Regions from separate parts of the Homo sapiens genome. Here region 2 is linked to region 1. Evidence: fine-mapped expression QTL. A gene starts in region 1. The other region holds a variant in brackets. All regions are shown on one strand. Distances are between the middles of the regions. Region 1 holds the start of UGP2 (UDP-glucose pyrophosphorylase 2). Region 2 has its middle 78 kb from the start of UGP2.

Evidence for each region.
Region 2: its variant is fine-mapped to the expression of UGP2 in fibroblasts (GTEx, PIP 0.98).

What each region holds. Positions count from the first base shown.
Region 1 is chr2:63,840,950-63,843,449 of GRCh38, forward strand. It overlaps UGP2 (UDP-glucose pyrophosphorylase 2), which reads left to right and starts at 947. Exons shown (of 10, transcript NM_006759.4): 1 at 947-1,255. The coding sequence starts at 1,237. RefSeq lists enhancers at 1-133, 1,004-1,053 and a silencer at 594-903.
Region 2 is chr2:63,762,184-63,765,215 of GRCh38, forward strand. It overlaps a transcript of WDPCP not described here. Among named protein-coding and RNA genes, the nearest start is that of UGP2, 78 kb to the right of the region's middle. The variant T/G (reference allele first, on the strand shown) is at 1,427.

The DNA.
Region 1 (2,500 bases):
GTGCGGCAGGGACATTTCCGCATTGAAGGGGCTGCTCCGAATGGAGGGGGAGGGGAGGTGTTTAGGAGAAAGTAGGGGCTGTGGGTGTCGGGAGCCGGCTGACGGGTGGACAAGGGGGGGTTAGCAGCTGGGCTGCGACCGTTAGGGAGGGGCTCAAGGTGTGCATGTGTGAGGGAAGAGAGAGAGAGAGAAGGGCGCCTCAGAGGTGACTTTCAGCCTGCGAGCCTTCTTCCCGGGGCGCCATAAACGCCCCCAATTTCCCAGCTGCTAAAGGAAGAGGAAGGTGGGTCTCGCTGGCGGCTTGAGGAGGGGCGGGGTTGGGCTTCCGGCGACCCCCTGGATGAGTGTGTTTCCCGCTCTCGCTGGCCCGCTGTGTGGTCTCGGAGGCGGAATTTGGGCTTCTGAGGAGCGCAGGGCAGGCGGGGCGAGAATATGTACGGGAAGGGTCGGTGCCCTCCCTTGGGACTCCCGCGCCGGTGCACGGGTCTGCCTCTAGCCGGTGACCCCTTAGTGTCCGCTGCGGGGGAGGGGCAGCGTAGCCTTCGGCCCCTACCGAGAAAAAGCTGCGGCCGGGTTTCACTGCTCGAGGCGGGAAGGCGGGGAGCTGAGGCCCCGACCGGTCGGCCAGCCAGAGCGTGGAATTGGTAGCGCCTCCTAGTCCCAGGATGTTTATGGCTGGTGAAAATGGTTGCACTGCCCCCGCTGGCCGGCCTCGCCCGCCTCCCCGACCCCTGCTTGGGCGGGAGCCGCTGTTAACCGGGGTTTTCGGGGGAGGCGTTTGGGGCCTGGACGGCGGCGCGGGGAGGGGGCAGCTAGGGGCGCGGCCTGCCAGTGCCTCCTGCAGTACAGCCCTGGAGGGCGTGGGGACTTGGGGGCGGTGAAATAGCCGCTGTAGGTCCGCCTCTTTCATTGAAGAAATTTAAGTTCGTGTGGTTTTACCTTTTCCGGGAGTCTCCAGCTGGCCCTCATTTGTGTCCGGAGCTCAGGAGTTCCCAAACCGACTCAGTCGCACCAAGTTTCCGTCTTTTGGAATTGGGGAAGGAGTTTCTTTCTTTCTTTTCTTTTTTCTTGAGCCAGTTTTAATCGCTTTGAATAAATACTCCCTTAAGTAGTTAAATATAGGAGGAGAAAGAATACATCGGTTGTTAAAGCAGGAGAGGAAGAGAGACCTGCCCTGTAGCGTGACTCCTCTAGAAAAAAAAAAAAAAAGCCGGAGTATTTTACTAAGCCCCTAAAATGTCGAGATTTGTACAAGGTAAGAAATGCTGCTGCTTATATCCCGAGTTGCTTCAGGCAAATTTGGGTACTGACAGTGGAGAGGTTGGTGGGTGGTTTGGAAGTGGAAATGTTCATTTGAGATAACATTTGCGAAACCCTTTTCGTTGAATTGTCATCTGAGCTGCCTTGAGCTGCTGGGTTGACGTTCCAGACGCGTATAATTTATGCTCCTGTACCCTGCTGGGTTTAGTTTTGCCTCCCTGAAATCAGGTTAGTAGTACCGTCGCTTTCCTGGATAGTGGCTGTAAGTGATAAAACAGGATTTTTGGCTGCTAATTAATCCTTGTTCTCTTTTCCTGGTCTGTGTCAAGGTACCTGTGCGTGCACGCAGACGGGAAGGGCTGGGGAAGCGGGAGGACTGAGAAAAGCCGGGTGGGTTTTGCCGGGACTGTTGGGGAAGCTTTAGTGTTCTCCGCTTCTACTTCGTTTGTGTGTACGTGGTTTGCGTCTCAGATTCACTTATTGCGAAACTGGGAGTAGCCCGAAGAAGCTGGAGGTCATTTCAGCTGGAGAAATGACTTTGCTGCATTGCTGTGTTTATTTTTTCCTTTTTTGAACTATGAAAAGATGATTAAGGTTCCTTTGAAGTTTGAAAACTGCTCTCTAAATTCCACATGTGTATTTAAAAAGGGTTAGGGAATGCCTCAACTGAGATTATCAGTAACGTGTATATGAATGCATGTGTGTACGGTGTACTCACTGAAATTGGTGCTGGCATAAACCTTTGACACCAGTTTGTAGCATGAGATTTGCCTTCTGGTATGCAAGTAAACTCTTTCCTTGTAGACTCCAGTGTGTGAAAGCTTCAGCCATCTTGATGAACACACAGCTAGTAAAGTTCACAAACACTTATTATGCTTCCTGATAAATGTAGGTGTACTTTTGGAAAAAAAAAGTTGTGTCAGTAATGGCCATCATTTGACCCTGGGAATAAAAATGCCCTACTGAGTTCTACATCGCTTTATTAACTCTTCTTTAAATTTTGTGTAGTAGATTAAAGTAAGAGAATTCGACTGCCTGTGTTATTATCGAAACAGATCGAACGCTATGCTTGCCTTTAGCGCTAAGCTCAGAAATGTCACTTGTTATTAGACTTTCAAATTCATGTTATACCTTATATGTGGTAAGAGATGCTTATGTTCTGATTGAGTAAATGTCTTATTCAAGAATAGAAAGGCAGAACTGTTAGAAACGTACTGGTTTTGTAATAACAATATTCAGT
Region 2 (3,032 bases), 78 kb before region 1:
AAGAGGTAAATGTGGGAGTCTGAATCACTGGGGAAAAGAGAAGAGTTGGTGACTGAGGGGACCAACGAGGCTGCAGAGGAGGATGGATGCCTTTTTCTATAAGGGTTTTTCTGTGGCCCTTTGATCATTATGTGAGCAAGCTAAATGAATTAAAATCAGAAAATCTGAAAATCTAACACGAAATAACATTTGTACACTGAGGAGGGTAAGAAAAAATGCACTCATTACCCCTTTCAGATTATGCCAATAAACTGGGCATTTTTGGTTTGAGTCAATGCAGGACAATGTATGGTCTTTAGTCCCATTTTCTGTTGCCTATAACAGAATACCTGAAACTGGGTAATTTATAAGAATATATTAATTTCTTACAATTCTAGAGGCTGAGAAATCCCAGGTTGAAAGGCCATATCCAGTGAGAGTCTTGTTGCTAGTGGGAACTCTCTGAAGGGTCCCGAAGGAGGTTATCACCTGGTGAGGAAGCTGAGTGTACTAACATGCTAGCTCAGATCTTTTTCTCGTCTTATAAAGCCACTGGTTCTCCTTTCATGATAACACATTAATCCATGAATAAATTAAACCACTCATGAGGGCAGAACCTTCATGATCCAATCACTTCTTAAGGGCTCCACCCCACCTCTCAATACTGCCACATTGCGGATTAAGTTTCAACATGAATTTTGGAGGGGCTATTCAAACCACAGCAATAAGAACTAAGTAAAACAATGAAGGTGGTATATAATTGTGGAAAGCTTCATCCATTTATAAAAAAAATTTGCTGAGTTTCTCCAGTATACCAGACCTGTTATATATGTTGGGATACAACAGTGACCATGACAAACAGAGTCTTGATATCTTGAAGCTCACTTTCATCTTCTGATGCAGCTCTCTCTATATTTGAAACATGATCATCTATATATTTAATGTGATTATCAAGACCATACTTATTTGAGTTGGGGGGTATGCCTTATTGTTCTCAGTATTCCTAGCACCTAATACCCTGACTGACACACAGAAAGTACAAAAAGGTATTTGTTGATGGTCCGGGCACGGTGGCTCATGCCTGTGATCCCAGCACTTTGGGAGGCTGAGGAGGGTGGATCACTTGAGGCTAGGAGTTTGAGACCAGCCTGGCCGATATAGTGAAACCCCATCTCTACTAAAAATACAAAAAATTAGCTGGGCATGGTGGCACACCTGTAATTCCAGCTACTCAGGAGGCTGAGGCAGAGAATCACCTGAACCTGAAAGGCAGAGGTTGCAGTGAGCCGAGATTGCGCCACTGCATTCCACCCTGGGCAACAGAACAAGACTTTGTCTCAAAAAAAAAAAAAAAAAAAATTGTTGATGGAATAAGTGAATTCATTTGCAGTAAGAATAACATAACTCATGAAATGCATCCAAAATACACATGTTGTTAATTTAGCAT[T/G]ACTAAAACTTCATGAAACCAAAATTCCTCTCATATATTCGGAAATGTAGCACAAAAAAGTGTTTTGATTAGTGAAATTATGTAGAAAAATATACCTAAAAAGGATATATTCAGAGATAGTCAGGAGTTATTTTCATTTTCTTCCATTATGGCTATTTATTTGTGCCAAAAAATTGCTGTTAGAAGTTGTTTTTAAAAATAGAATCTTTAAGTGGTACATTAAATCCAGCTGGCTTCAAACGGTACAGGGTGGTGGTGTTGGGGGGAGGGTCACAGATGGCCAGATCTCTAGGGAATTCTATGACCTCAGTGATGACTGACTAAAATTCCTGGACTTTTCCTGGACTTTTCTTGTGAGAGGAATTCTACAGTTGATAATTATTGATAATTATCAATTCTTGTTCCCTGATAGTTATTGTTATTACTTTTTATTGAGGTAAAATTCACATAAGATAAAGTTATTTTGAAGTGTGCAATTCAGTGACTTTGAGTACATTCACAATATTATACAACTATCACTTCTCTCTAGTTTCAAAACACTTTCATCACCCCAAAAGAAAACCTCATACCCATTAAGCAGTCACCCTGAGAATTATTTAATCTCTGGCTCCACATAATAAGCACCAATCCTATCAGCTCTGTAATAGAAAAATAACAGGAAAAGTATTTTCCTCCAAAAAGTATAAAAATTGTAACTTTAATAATAGGGTTTGCAAGGCCAGTCAAGGGCTAGCCTGTGATCCTTTGAGTGATGCCGTGGTGACCTCTGATGCTGAACATATGGGCATGGTCTGACCTCCAGATGGGCAGCAGGTGTATCTCTGCATAGGCCTCTGAGAAAGCTACCTGGGATGATCCTGGAAGACCAAAATGTCAACTGAGTTTTTAAGTGTATTTAAGGTTTTCAGACTTAAATGATTTTTGAATTGTCAAACACCACGCAAAGAGTAGATATGGTAAGTGATTAAAAAAGCACATTAAATATAAATGGATTGAAATGTGAAAAAAGCCACAAACACTACACACTGACAGCCTTTAGGAAATGCCTCTTTACAACCTTGACTTTCTTGATGAGGAATTTGTGCTGGTAAAGGGGCTTTCGTTTATTTAGGGGATGGACCGAGAGGCTTCCTGAGGAGAAAATCTATTTTAAGGCAAGACCATGAAGGAGGAGTTTGGGCTGGAAACAAAGGCTAAGTCACCAAAGGGGTGTGACCTTTCTGATTCCAGGGTTATATTGTCATTCAGATTACTTTCCTAGCCCAGATTCTCTTTGAGGTCATGTTTGGATGGGGTAGAGTAGGAACATGGTAAATAAAAAATTGAAAATGGAAAGAGCTGCTTATCTAAGAGGGAGTCCTAAACTAGGCTAAGGTAGCTTTTCCACTCAACAAAGATGTGTGGAAAGCACTATGTGCTGGGCATTTGTTAAACATGGAAGATACAATGGTAAACAGGACAGATATACTCCCTGTCTCCAAGAATTTTACAGTCTAAAGGTAGATATTTAAAATAGGACTACATAAATATTGACTACAATAAAGACTACAGAGGAATAGTTCACTAGGCAACGGCAGTGTTTAATGGCAGAACTCTAACCCAGTCT